4 linked regions of the Homo sapiens genome follow. The protein of the gene in region 1 purifies or fractionates together with the protein of each later gene. This does not show direct contact. Each region holds a gene or a part of one and is shown in the gene's direction. Other genes may lie near its edges.

Region 1 (3,927 bases):
ACAAAGTTTAATTGAGCAAAGAACAATCTGTGAATTGGGCAGCTCCCAAAAGCAGAATAGGTTCAGAGTGACTGCAGGGTTGCCACACCTGGTTAGATAACGTTTATGGACAGATTCCTAGAGCTTTTGATTCTTTTTTTTTTTTTTTTGAGGCAGAGTTTCACTCTTATTGCCCAGGCTGGAGTGCAATGGCGTGATCTTGGCTCACTGCAACCTCCACCTCCTGGGTTAAAGTGATTCTCCTGCCTCAGCCTCCTGAGTAGCTGGGATTACAGGTATACACCACCAAACCCAGCTGGGATTACAGGCATGCACCACCATGCCCAGCTAATTTTTGTATTTTTAGTAAAGACAGGGCTTCGCCATGTTGGCCAGGCTGGTCTCGAACTCCTGACCTCAGGTGATCCACCTGCCTCAGCCTCCCCAAGTGCTGGGATTACACGTGTGAGCCACTGTGCCAGGCTGGAGCTTTTGATTCTTAAGTCCATCCACATGGAGCCTCCAGCAACTCAGGAATTACAGCATAAATGTTCCTATTGGTACTGGCTCCAGCAACAGGCTTCTGCTCCCTGTAAGCTATGGTTCTTTGTATTTGCGTTTCTAATTTGTGAGGCATTCTCTCTTTAACCTTAATTCTCTAATGGATCTAAGTGTTGTTGACTTTTCAGTTTATTGAGCTTTTTTCTTATTGTGAGGATGGGAATGATGACTTCCAATCTCTTTATATTAGAAAATATAAATCAGACTAGAGACTGGAAATTTTTGTTGTTGTTGTTGGGTGTTTTGTTTTGTTTGTTTTTAGACAGGTCTTGCTCTCTCATCCAGGCTGGAGTTCAGCAATGCGACCGTGCTCACTGCAGCCTCGACTTTCTAGGCTCAGGTAATCCTCCCACTTCAGCCTCCTTAGTAGCTAGGACTGTAGGCATGCACCACCATGATGCCTGGCTAGTTTTTTTATTTTGTATTTTTTGTAGACATGGAGTCTTGCTACATTGGCCAGGCTGGGTATTACTGGGTATTTCTTTCTTTCCTCCTTTATTTCTTTCCATATTTACTTATTCAATGAATATTTGAGTGCTTATTATATACCAGGCACTGTTCTAGGCACTGGGGATATGGGGATACAGCAATGAAAAAAAAAGATAAATACTTTGTCCTTATGAAATTTGTATTCTAGAGTAGGGAGACATAATGAACAAATGAAAACAGGCATCAGATGGTGATAGGTAGTAAGGAGAAAAAGAAGTAAGGGTAATAGGGAATACTGGGTACTGGATGGGGTACAGATATTTTAAACAGAGTGGTGAGAAATAGTTAATACAGCTAGCAACATAAAAAAGGAGAAATATCAAACTGCAAACTGTTTTAGGAAGATAAATCCTTCATAGACCCAAAGAAGCTCACAATTTAGATGTCGAAACTAGTTTCTGCAAAAAGGGGAAAATGTGATTGACTTGGTTAAATATTCAGTATTAAATTTTATTGAATTTGTCTTTAGAAAAATTTCATAGTTAGAACAGGCCTTACCCATTTTGCACATATATACATATGCACCACCTTTGCAGTGGCAACATATATATCCACACTATAAACATACCACATTTATAAATCTTGTAAGGACAAGAAATGGAGTTGAATAAGTACCCCCCAACATATACAAGAAAGTTAGCATACTTACCCCGTTTTTCACTACATCAGAGGCAAAATAAGAAATCTTTTAAGAAAATCTCAAGACTGGCTCATGGCAAAATGAATATGCTAAATTTGGGGGTTGGTTTAAGCGTGGTATGTGTCAGGTAATTTTGTGATTACCAAAAAGTTTTCACTTGAAAACTAAGACCTTTGCTGTTTATTTCACAATGTGAAATCAATAAACCTGAGGATACAAGTCTCTGTAGTGATATTCTGTATTTACTCATTTTTACACATTTTTGAATGCAATTTTGCTAAGGAAGGAAAGCTTACAGATGCATAAAATGTAACTGGGAAGAGTAGCCATAAAAATCAATGAATGGATGTGGCTGGGCAAGAGCCTCTGTAATACTAATACGCTGAATGGCTAATAAGTCACTTCATTTCGGTGAAACAAATACCTAAATTCTTTGAAGAATTAACAGGCTTGATGTTCAGGTCTGCTTTTGGCAAATGGGCATTTAAATACTCCAAGAAGGTAAGAGCCAGAAAATAGGAAGGTAACTATGCTTTTAGAAATATGTTTACTTAGATTCTCCCAAGGTTTATACTTACAGGTAAACTTAGAACAATAGCTCAAATACCTACATAGGAGAAGGAAATCTCAAGGGAAAACAGTTAATTTTAAAGTTATTTAAGAAACAGAATCCAACACCATAGATCAGAGTTCATGCTAGGATTATCATTTCAAAAATAATGACTCATCCAACAGATATAGAATAATAGCACTTTAAAGATGTTTAAGAGTAAAGCACAAACCATGTATATACCAAGACTTAGCTAATTCTCTGAGAGTTATAACTTAAGACAATAAAATAATTAAAAATAGTGTTAACATTAAGTAGAATGCAAATCTCTATAGATGGTTTCCTGGGAAAGTAGTTTTGATAAGCTTTCCTAGCATTGATCATCTTCAAAAAAGCATCAATAAACAGTCCATGTCACTTGCTTTAGTTTGTTTGGGCCTACTAATTGCTCCAACACTTCTCGGGAATGATCTATAAAAGAAAACAATGACAATATATTAATTGACAATAAAAAATGTTTAATGTTTCCTCATGTCTAACTGGAGGTGATGTTAATTATTATACAGTTATTTAAAGGATTAAAGGAGGTGATCTATAAAGCACAATATACAACTAACTCACTAATAATTAATTAATGGTAGCCCTCACTATTATTAGGTGTAGTGCACCTATCATGGTATTACTTGTTTAAAAAAAAAAAACAGGCATTTGTTGTTTTCTCTGTAATTTCATCATAATTCCACCAACCAGAGTAATGGTCTAATTTCACCATTAACCTGTGTTAATGGTTAATAACTTTTTTCAGGATCTTAGCCGGAAATAGATGATTCACTAAAGTGGGGTGACTGAACAGCATTTAATGAAGGGAATATTTACCAAAAAAGTAGGATTAAAGAAAGCCAATAGGTACGGTAAACCACCTTGGGAAGCTGCAACACACCCAAAGGGTTAAAGGAGGTAGTAGTCACCGAACGTGACAAGTTGACCTGTAGCTGAACATTTTTCCATGTCTGTATAATACTACTATAAAGCATGATTTTAAATAGATAACCATTATATAAATACACTGTAATTTAACCAATCTATATTATTGGACATTTAGATGTTTTCAGTTTTTCACAATGTACAGTCGTGATTTTGATATGGTTTCCATCCTAGTTTTAGGATGTCTTTTAAAAATCTGAATTAAAGCAAAAATACTGATAAAATTTTGTTAGTTTAAATATTACTCATAAGTTTAATAAACTTGTTTCCATAGATACAACCTATGTTTTATGTACAACATATCTCTAACCTAGTCTTGGAAATCCTGTAATTTGGTGGTTCCTAGACAGATTTCACAGACCAGTAGAAAAAAAAAAAAAGATGGGCCCAACATATACAGTGACAAAATTTTATTTTAAGTTTAACAAAATTAAGCAAAAATACCAAGGTTTATTGCCAGCAAGAGAACCAGAGAGTGTATAGAAATGAAAAGTTATTATCATTGGGAAAACAAAGGTTTACAATTTTTTAAAAAAGCAGCTAGTAAGATAAATGCAGTTTTATTCATGGTCATAAAAATATTATTGGTTATTGTAGAGGAAATCTCAATCAAAGATAGATTCAAATTATGTTGAAAGTAAAAGAATGGACAAAGACATACCATTTAAATGGCAACCATGACAAAGCTGGGTGGCTATAGAAGAAGGGGGAAACACTTTCCAAC
Region 2 (3,250 bases), on another chromosome or scaffold:
AATGGGTCAGAAGAGCCCAGGGCAGGAGGCTGCGGAGGGGCTGGTCCATCTCTCCCACACCATGAGACCCCATTTTGCGTCTCCCCGCCCCATGCCACCTGCAGACAAGGTGAACCGGGATTCCGTGCGCTCCATCCAGAAGAGCATCTTCACCGTGTGCCTAGATGCAACCATGCCCAGGGTCTCAGAAGACGTGTACCGCAGCCACGTGGCAGGCCAGATGCTGCATGGGGGCGGCAGCAGGCTCAACAGCGGCAACCGCTGGTTCGACAAGACGCTGCAGGTGAGGCCCGGCAGGGCTTCGCCCACTCACACACACCTGAACAGGACCTCTGCAGCCTCGGGACTTCCTGCCCGTCCCCGGCCCTGCGTCCCCAGCCTCCTAGCTTGTAAAGCAGGCAGGAAGCCAGCAGGCTGGACGCTGCCGTAATTACCAGGCAGCCAGCCTGTCATCACCAGTCCTGCCTCTGGCCTGGAAACCGCTGTCACCCCCAGCACACCCCCTCAGCACCTCACAGAGAACCTGGGATCCGGGGTCACCAGTGCAATCCTGGCACAACAGTCCCTCTCCACACCTGTAAAATGGGGTGATGGTCAACCTCACCGGTAGAGTAGTTTGAAGGACTCAGTCAGGCACGCTGAGCGTGGGATGTGCTTAGCACACCAGGGCACCTGGTGAGTGTCAGCTATTGTTAATAACAGTAATAAGTCATCATAGCCCCTTGAGATGGCTTCAGAGAGGCCCTTGCCTCAACCAAAGAGTGGTTGGGTGAGGGGCCACCCCCCAGGGCCCTGGGGCTGACCGGGGTCTCCCTTCCCTTCCACAGTTCATCGTGGCAGAAGATGGCTCCTGTGGGCTTGTGTACGAGCATGCTGCAGCGGAGGGGCCCCCTATTGTCACCCTTCTGGACTATGTCATCGAGTACACGTGAGTACAGTCACATCTCTCGCCTAGTTCCCCAGCTTCTAGTGACAGGTGACACACAGGTGATAGACCAGCTTATAGAGAAATATCACTCTCCTTTGTGCCTGGGAATCTGTTTTTTTCCAAGGAAGCCAGCCAGATATGGTGGCTCACGCCTGTAATCCTGACACTTTGGGAGGCTGAGGTGGGAGGATCAATTGAGGTCAGGAGTTTGAGATCAGCCTGGCCAACATGGTGAAATGCCATCTCTACTAAAAATACAAAAAAAAAAAAAATTACCCAGGTGTGGTATCACATGCCTATAATCCCAGTTACTCAGGAGGCTGAGGCAGGAGAATTGCTTGAACCCAGGAGGCAGAGGTTGCGTTGAGCGGAGACTGTGCCACTGCACTCCAGCCTGGGTGACAGAGCAAGACTCTGTCTCAAAAAAAAAAAAAAAAAATTAGGCCAGGTGCAGTGGCTCATGCCTATAATCCCAGCACTTTGGGAGGCGGATCACCTGAGGTCAGGAGTTCAAGACCAGCCTGGCCAACATGGTGAAACCCTGTCTCTACAAAAATTAGCCAGGCATGATGGCGGGTGCCTGTAATCCCAGCTACTTGGGAGGCTGAGGCAGGAGAATCGCTTGAACCCGGGAGGCAGAGGTTGCAGTGAGCTGAGATCACACCATTGCACTCTAGCCTGGGTGACAGAATGAGACTCTGTTTCAAAAAAAAAAAAAAAAAAGTTAGCCACGCGTGGTGGTGGGTGCCTGTAATCCCAGCTACTCAAGAGGCTAAGGCACAAGAATCACTTGAACCCAGGAGGTGGAGGTTGCAGTGAGCCGAGATCGTTCCATTGCTCCAGCCTGGGTGACAGAGCAAGACTCTGTCTCAAAAGAAAAAGAAAAAAATTAGCCAAGGTGGCGGGCATCTGTAATCCCAGCTACTCAGGAGGCTGAGGCAGGAGAATCGCTTGAACCAGGGAGGCCAAGGTTGCAGTGAGCTGAGATCACATCACTGCACTCCAGCCTGGGCAACAGAGCAAGACTCCATCTAAAAAAAAAAAAAAAAGAAAAAAGAAAAAAAAGCTGAAGTGAGGGTGGTTTTCAGAACAAACTCACACCTCCCTGGGCTGGCCCCCTCCAGCTTCAGGTACCCATCCTCCCCACCCTGGTCCCAGAATGGACCCAGGCTCTAGAGGCACCAGCATGAGCCTGAGGCCCCGTTTACTGTGCAGGAAGAAACCCGAGCTTGTGCGGTCTCCCCTGGTGCCCCTGCCCATGCCCAAGAAGCTGCGGTTCAACATCACCCCCGAGATCAAGAGCGACATCGAGAAGGCCAAGCAGAACCTCAGCATGTAAGTGCCTGCCCCCGCCATCCCTGTGCTGGATGGGTGAGGCCAGGCCCTTGAGCTTGAGAGGCTCCTGTGCCAGCTCTGTCATGACACCCAGACCCTCCGTGGGGTTGGCAGGGGCTGCCGGGGCCTGCTCCTCACCTGCTCTTCCCACACCCCCAGCATGATCCAGGACCTGGATATCACCGTGATGGTGTTCCACCATTTTGGAAAAGACTTCCCCAAGTCGGAGAAGCTAAGCCCAGATGCCTTCATCCAGATGGCTTTGCAGCTGGCCTACTACAGGTGCGCCTCTGTGGCCCACCCATGGAGGAGGGAGGAGACCTGGGGGCAGGGGAGGGGGTGCCCGCCTCCAAGGGGCGTGCTTAGCCCCATTTCCCACCAGGATCTACGGACAGGCATGTGCCACCTATGAAAGTGCCTCCCTGCGCATGTTTCACCTGGGCCGCACCGACACCATCCGCTCGGCTTCCATGGACTCACTCACCTTTGTCAAGGCCATGGATGACTCCAGCGTCACGGTGAGAGGTCTGGGGCGAGGGTGGGTGAGCTGGGCCTGAGCCCCTCCCTCCTGCTCACTCAGTCAACACACAATAATTGAGCACCTACAGGATTCCAGCCCCATGGTGGGCACGGGGAATCTAACAGAAGCTGGAGCCGTGAATCTAGCTCTGAGCTTCCTGGGGACCAAAGAGGAAAAGGGAGTCATTCATTTGTTCATTCATTTATTCATTGGCAGTAAGCAACTGCCCTATGTCAGGCCCTGGCTGAGGACCAAGGAGTTGGTAGTTGCAATACTCGCTCTTTTTTTTTCTTGTTTTTTTTTAGAAAGAGTCTCACTCTGTTGCCCAGGCTGGAGTGCAGTGGTGTGATCTCGACTCACTGCAACCTCCACCTCCCGGGTTCAAGCAATCCTCCTGCCTCAGCCTCCCAAGTAGCTGGGACTACAGGTGCCTGCCACCATGCCCGGCTAATTTTTGTATTTTTAGT
Region 3 (3,194 bases), on another chromosome or scaffold:
TATATTCATAAAATAGAATGTTTTTCTGAAACTCACTTACCAACCTCTTACTTGAAGTATAAGTTTCTTTGCCTTTTTTTTAGGCACCTTTCTTGGATGTTCTCAACACCATGATGGACACTACACTTCCTCTGACATTAGAAGAATTAGAAGAATGGGGGAATCCTTCATCTGATGAAAAACACAAGAACTACATAAAACGTTACTGTCCCTATCAAAATATTAAACCTCAGGTAGTGAAAGACAATTGTGTTAGATTATCCTGAATTTACACAGAAGATAATAAAAAAAAAACTTATCCAAGCTGAAGCAAAAATAGGAGCTTTAGAGATGTTTCTACTTATGATGCCCAAATATCTTCAGCACCATCTCTGCTCATGCTCCATGTTTAATACCTCAGGGGAATAGACTTATCATGCCTTAATTACTAAATTAGCTAAGGTCCTTTAGTCAAGAAAAGGCTATTCCAGATAACAAGTAGTCTACTACTGTAATACTGAGGCGCTCTCAAGATAGCAAGTGAGAAAAAGCATAGAGCACTTACAGGGAAAAATTGGAGGTAATTATTTTTCATAGTCTCTATAGTGGCAAGGGACCATAAGAAATAATGTAAACTCTTCGTGCATGTATTTTCTTTCAGCATTATCCTTCAATTCACATAACGGCATATGAAAACGATGAACGGGTACCTCTGAAAGGAATTGTAAGTTATACTGAGAAACTCAAGGAAGCCATCGCGGAGCATGCTAAGGACACAGGTGAAGGTAGGAGACCCCCTAGAAGCAGGGAACATGGCCAAACAGACTACTACCCACAGCACACTGCTCAGAGGAATATATTTCAGGCTGTAGCCAAATCATCTGCCCAGGATTTAGGGCAAACAATTATTTTGCTATGTTGACTCCCCAGTTAAAGTGTACGTAACTACATGTCTATACATACACTGCCTCACCTCTTTTTCAAAGGACAGTATTAAAATAGATAGGCAGGACACAAAGGAAACAGGAAATTTAAGAATCAGATATAACTTGGAGATGCACTGCCATACAATTATTAATTCATTTAACAATATTTATTGAGCCGTTATTCTTGGGAATCTCTAAAAGACAGATTCTGAGATTTTTGTTTTGGGCCATCAGTGCCCAAACTGTTTAGCTGCATGAATTTCCTCTAGCTAGCTGTTTCAGCTTTATGAGATAAGAATCCCTCCCTTTTGCCTTGAAACTACATGCCATATCAGTCTCCCTGTATTCATCTCCATTTGTCACCCCCATCCATTGCTGTAGTTGGTGTTTCCAGGGCATAAGACTCTCAGATTCCACAGGGCAGGTTGATGATCTCCTGGGTTTCAACCTTGTCCGTGTGGCACCATATAGTCTTTTCCATACGGCCTCTTCCTGCTTTCGCTGTGTCAGAAGTTTGTCTTCTGTTGCTTGTCCCCTCCCATCTTTTTGTTGATGATGGTGGTTTTTGCTTTTTATTCCTTTACTATTATTTGAACTGAGTACTCAAAGAAGAGGGGAGGAATGGGTCTCGATCTTCCAAAGAAGATCCCATACAATCTTCTAATTGTTCTACATGTTAACTCTTCCAGGCTATCAGACCCCTAATATTATTCTAGATATTCAGCCTGGAGGCAATCATGTAATTGAGGATTCTCACAAAAAGGTATGTTATCAAGGCCCTCTCAGTGGACAGATTCCCGAACTAGATACATGTTGTTTTCACATTTTCAGTGGTTGCAGCAGGTTTATGACAAAGCCACTTCACAAATGTCCTATCTATGGGTGAGACCCAGGAGGGGAGGGAGGGACACTGTGTCAATCAAGAGAAATGTCTCTCTCTTGTACTTGATACGTGAGCTCTGTTAAAGAAAATAATTTAATCTTAATTGTTGGAAGCCTTCTGCCTCTCTCTCGAATGAAAGTATTCTTGCCATAAATTGCTGACTTCACGGTTAGGTAAAGATGGATAGATAAAGAGAAGCTTAAACAGTGGCATTTTACTACAAAGGCCTTCTATTTAATTTTTTTAATGTGTTTCTTTTAGATTACAGCCCAAATTAAATTCCTGTACGAGGAACTTGGACTTGACAGCACCAGTGTTTTCGAGGATCTTAAGAAATACCTGAAATTCTGAAACACTGCATTCAACTGGGAATTGGAAACACACTGAAATATTTCATAGTCTTACTTCCAATTGAGTTAGCAAAAAAAAAATTAATAACTTGAGACTTTTAAGTTATTAATTTTTTAAAATGTGCTTCTCCATCTAAATTTTGCTTAGTCTACATCTCACTTGCTTATACTATTCTCTCCATTGATGCACATGCCCATTAACCTAGGAAAGTAATTTTCAAATCATGCTCCTTAGAAGGATGTGGAGTAGAGGGAAGGGAAGGATTGGTGATAGCAGAGCTCCAGGCCTCCCTTCCAGTCAGAACAGTTGAGCAGTTTACAAATTAGTGTCCTGCCTCTTTGCTAGCAAATGCTTTTAGACACTGTGGCAGTGAGTCATCCTCTAATTTCTATGACTGCATTTTAAGGGAAAAGATAAAATTCTTCCCCTTAAAATTCGTTAAAGTTTTTGAATAATCTGGGGTCCTAATGTGTTCTGGTCATCCCTGATTGATGCTATCTGAATAAAGTTATAAGCTCCTATAAGCCATAATTTACTTTTAAACATTTTATTTTTTTCAAAACATTTGAGAACCTTTCTTAAAGCAGTTACATTCAAGCTACAGAAATATCGAAGAATTAATGATTGTTCACCAAGCAGCATGCTGTACATGAAGCTATTACAAATGCTTACAATCCCACTGAAATGCCAGTGTCTTCATCTCTTCATAAAGGTGCCTAACACGAGGTATACAGTATGTTCAGTACACTGGAATAGCATGCTCGATTGGAAACAAAGCATCTATCTCTGAAAGCTGTTTGGCGATGAAGGAGATTCTTCGTGTTGTGTTCAAAGATGAGTCCCTCTCCCTTGTCCAGAAAAATGCCACTTGTATCAACTTTACTGCCTTTGTCGGCAGAATTGGTACTTAACCTTATTCTCATTTTAGCGGGAAGGCCCGAAATCATATTATGTAGATTTAACAGTGTTGATTCTCCAAAATTCAGAACCACGATAAAGATTCTGTCGATGCCATCCAGCTCTCTTGTGTACACAACATAGTGGCTGTCATTCCT
Region 4 (3,500 bases), on another chromosome or scaffold:
GATATCTGCGTTTCCTCCTTTCCTTGGTCCTGAGTTTATATTTTATTTACTTTATATTCTGGAAGGAGGCGTGATATAAGCAAGTTACTTTACCTTTTTTTCACAAACTCTTTGAACTAATGTCACTTTAGACTATGCTGTTTCCATCACGCAACTTTAGTGTGGTTTAGGATACGAACGTCTTAATATCACATAGAAAAATTTAATGATCTTTGCTCAGTTTTGTCTTTAGTGATCTTATTTAATTTTGTTATGGTTCATTCTGTTATCTTGAAAACCAACTTTGCTTGCCTCTCTTCGTTTTCAAAATTGTTCTCTCTTCTTTCCTAGTTCTTTTTGAATTTCCTCACTGGGTAAAAACCCTGAGGCTGAGGCCTTTGTCCCTTTCCCACTTGTCTGCCTTCTCAACAGCGTATCCCTTCTTTCAGCTTTGACTCTCATCTTTGTGTAGGTAATACTTCACCTCTTAATCCAAAGCTCTGTTCTTAAATTTGTCGCCACATATTCAATGACTTCAAATTTTAAGTCTGTACCCTGATATTCATTCTTTTCTCCAATTCAACCTATTTTGCGTACTGTTATGAGAGTAATTTTAGAGTTTTAATTTGAAAATAGCACTCTCTTCCAGAAAACCAGCAGGATCTGGAATGAGCATTATATTAAAGTCACAAACTATGTTATGGTTTATGCCAGCACTTGCCCATATGGACATTTTTATCATACTTTTCTCTGTTAAGCTGGTTATACTTATTTCCATAAAGTCCAGAAGTATGTATCCTATCTTAGTGAATGGTCCCTAGGAAGAGTCAGAGGGATAGAGGTAAGGGGCATTATTAAGTTTTTTTATTTGGACATTTATTTTTTAATGAGAAAGGAAAAGAGATACATAACAGAAATTGGGCTGGAAAAATACCAGCATATGTATGTTGTTAGAAAATAGATAATTCATACAGGATGCAATATTGAAAGTATTCTGTTAAAACAACAATGAGGTCACTTTCCCCTTCTCAGATTGGCAGATGTTAAATCAAGTAATTGGGAAAATAGGAACTCTAGCATTGCTAGTAGAAGTATAAATTATTAGTTCAGTTACTTTAGGCAGTTTGGTAGTTTCTGTTAAAAACTGCATAGCTGTGATGTGGTAGTTGGATGTTTGCATATCTACATGAAGTCGTGGCATTCAGAAATATTTGTAATTACACAAATAAGCATGCTTTAAAATATATTTATATTTAAAAGTAAAAATGCAAGCAAAAATGATTTCAGCTAGCTTTAGTTAGTATGGATTTATGTTTTGATAGTTCAGCTTTATGTTTTGATAGTTATGGACAATGAAGGGCAAAGAAAATCATCGAGGTGTATACTCTGAAAATTGAATTTTTTTTTTTTGAGATGGAGTCTCGCTCTGTCACACAGGCTGGAGTGCAGTGGTGTGATCTCGGTTCACTGCAACCTCTGCCTCCCGGGTTCAAGCCATTCTCCTGCCTCAGCCTCCCGAGTAGCTGGGATTACAGGCACCCGCCACCATGCGTGGCTAATTTTTGTTTTTAGTAGAGATGGGGTTTCACCATGTTGGCTGGGCTGGTCTTGAACTCCTGACCTCAGATGATCTGCCCGCTGTGGCCACCCAAAGTGCTGGGATTACAGGCGTGAGCCACCGCACCTGGTCTGAACATTGAATTTCAAAGTAAGATGAAATGCTTATGAATTTCAGCGAACATTGAATTGGGTAGATTGAACAATACTAGTAAGGAAGTTGAGTTAGTATTTGGCAGATATAAATATTAAGTTTTAGAACTGAATGACAAAACCTCTGTTAAAATGGGGGCACATGTTTTTATGATCCTTCAGTATTGCATTTGGTTTTAATTTTAAAAGCTAACATATTTACAATTCACTTAAGCTAAAATCAAGGTGGAAAGTATGTTTAATTTTTTCCTTTGGGCTTCTCAGGCAGCCCCTTAGTTATTTTTGATTTCTTCATTATTAAAAATTTTTTTCTAGGTGATGATTATCAGTGAGTTTTAGTTTTTTTTTTTAAATTTTATTTTTATTTATTTATTTATTTTTGAGGTGGAGTCTCACTCTGTCACCCAGGTTGGAGTGCAGTGGTGTGATCTCAGCTCAATGCAACCTCTGCCTCCTGGGTTCAAGTCGTTCTCCTGCCTCAGCCCCCCATGTAGCTGGGACTTACAGGCACGTGCCACCACACCTGGCTAATTTTTGTATTTTTAGTAAGATGGGAATTTACCATGTCAGCCAGGATGGTCTCGACCTCCTGACCTTGTGATACGCCTGCTTCGGCCTCCCAAATTGCTGGGATTACAGGCGTGAGCCACTGCACCCAGCCCAGTTTTGTTTTTTTAAAAGCAAGTGAAAAAGGTACCAATAACTATATGTCATAACATTTTTGTGACCTAATATTTATATTGAAATGTGCATCAGTCATTGATAACTTTGTCCATGATCTGTAATTAACAAACTCATGCTGTTAATTTATAGTTTTATTAATATTTGGATGAAATTCACTGAAAGAACAAGAATTAGATTCTGAGGGGTTTAGTCTCCTGGACTTTTAGCTGCATATTTCCAGACCTTACTCTTTTATAGAGAAGTCTACCTACCTCAAAGTCAGCTAATCCATGAAATGACTACCAAATAGAATTCAGCCTTTTTTATGAGGCAATATGTAGGCCAGCTAAAAGGGAGGGGGGGCACTATTTTAGTCCAAAGATAAATGTCACTTTGAAAGAAATTTGCTGAAGATATTTGTGGGTTTCTTTGAGTTTTAAAAAGTTATTTAAAAGAAATCAGGCTGGGCGTGGTGGCTCATGCCCGTAATCCCAGCACTTTGGGAGGCCAAAGCAGGTGGATCAGTTGAGGTCAGGAGCTTGAGACCAGCCTGGCCAACATGGTGAAACACTGTCTCTACTAAAAATACAAAAATTAGCCAGGAGTGGTGGCGGGCACCTGTAATCCCAGCTACTCGGGAGGCTGAGGCAGGAGAATCGCTTGAACCCAGGAGGTGGAGGTTGCAGTGAGCCGAGATCATGCCGCTGCACTCCAGCCTGGGTGACAGAGCGAGACTCTTGTCTCAAAAAAAAAAAAAAAAAGAAAGTAATAGTAAAAGGCTGTACTACTTCCTTCTTGTGATATTTGAAATGAAGAAAAATTATGACCATATAAGCTGAAAGCCTAATTATAGAATTTGTGTGAGGGAGCTCAATCATGTTAAATCCTATATAAATTAAGGTTATATTTTATAGTTGCCTGTCTGTGCCTTTTCACCTTTAAGTCATTTGCTAGTAAGAGAAATGCTTAAGAAAGGTGAGTAAACAGATGTATTTATAAAAATAGTTATTAATTACTGATATCTCTCAGTGAGGTACATAGCTTTCACATAGAGATACTGTTAGTACAGTTTTACCCTGAAATCTACTCAGGTGCAAAATTGCTTTGGTTATGAAACACATTACTTGTGAGTCATCACTGCACTTAGT

The links. The genes of interacting proteins can lie anywhere in the genome.
Region 2: the proteins of ETFBKMT (region 1) and CRAT purify together in Homo sapiens (affinity purification with mass spectrometry; one large-scale study listed by BioGRID and IntAct). This does not show direct contact.
Region 3: the proteins of ETFBKMT (region 1) and PREPL purify together in Homo sapiens (affinity purification with mass spectrometry; one large-scale study listed by BioGRID and IntAct). This does not show direct contact.
Region 4: the proteins of ETFBKMT (region 1) and GLS purify together in Homo sapiens (affinity purification with mass spectrometry, with the first as the bait; one large-scale study listed by BioGRID). This does not show direct contact.

What each region holds. Positions count from the first base shown.
Region 1 is NC_000012.12:31,669,688-31,673,614, forward strand, and holds the end of ETFBKMT (electron transfer flavoprotein beta subunit lysine methyltransferase), read left to right. Parts: 3' UTR 1-2,616; coding exon of another isoform or gene 2,617-2,690; 3' UTR 2,691-3,427; downstream 3,428-3,927. Other genes in the region: protein AMN1 homolog, read right to left, coding at 2,617-2,690. UniProt on the Homo sapiens protein: Protein-lysine methyltransferase that selectively trimethylates the flavoprotein ETFB in mitochondria. Thereby, may negatively regulate the function of ETFB in electron transfer from Acyl-CoA dehydrogenases to the main respiratory chain.
Region 2 is NC_000009.12:129,097,544-129,100,793, reverse strand, and holds part of CRAT (carnitine O-acetyltransferase), read left to right. Parts: intron 1-104; coding exon 105-283; intron 284-827; coding exon 828-928; intron 929-2,143; coding exon 2,144-2,263; intron 2,264-2,422; coding exon 2,423-2,545; intron 2,546-2,645; coding exon 2,646-2,781; intron 2,782-3,250. UniProt on the Homo sapiens protein: Catalyzes the reversible transfer of acyl groups from carnitine to coenzyme A (CoA) and regulates the acyl-CoA/CoA ratio. Also plays a crucial role in the transport of fatty acids for beta-oxidation.
Region 3 is NC_000002.12:44,320,301-44,323,494, reverse strand, and holds part of PREPL (prolyl endopeptidase-like), read left to right. Parts: intron 1-83; coding exon 84-233; intron 234-640; coding exon 641-764; intron 765-1,057; exon of another isoform or gene 1,058-1,594; coding exon 1,595-1,668; exon of another isoform or gene 1,669-2,049; coding exon 2,050-2,139; 3' UTR 2,140-2,855; coding exon of another isoform or gene 2,856-3,194. Other genes in the region: amino acid transporter heavy chain SLC3A1, read right to left, coding at 2,856-3,194. UniProt on the Homo sapiens protein: Serine peptidase whose precise substrate specificity remains unclear. Does not cleave peptides after a arginine or lysine residue. Regulates trans-Golgi network morphology and sorting by regulating the membrane binding of the AP-1 complex.
Region 4 is NC_000002.12:190,883,821-190,887,320, forward strand, and holds part of GLS (glutaminase kidney isoform, mitochondrial isoform 1 precursor), read left to right. Parts: intron 1-3,500. UniProt on the Homo sapiens protein: Catalyzes the first reaction in the primary pathway for the renal catabolism of glutamine. Plays a role in maintaining acid-base homeostasis. Regulates the levels of the neurotransmitter glutamate, the main excitatory neurotransmitter in the brain.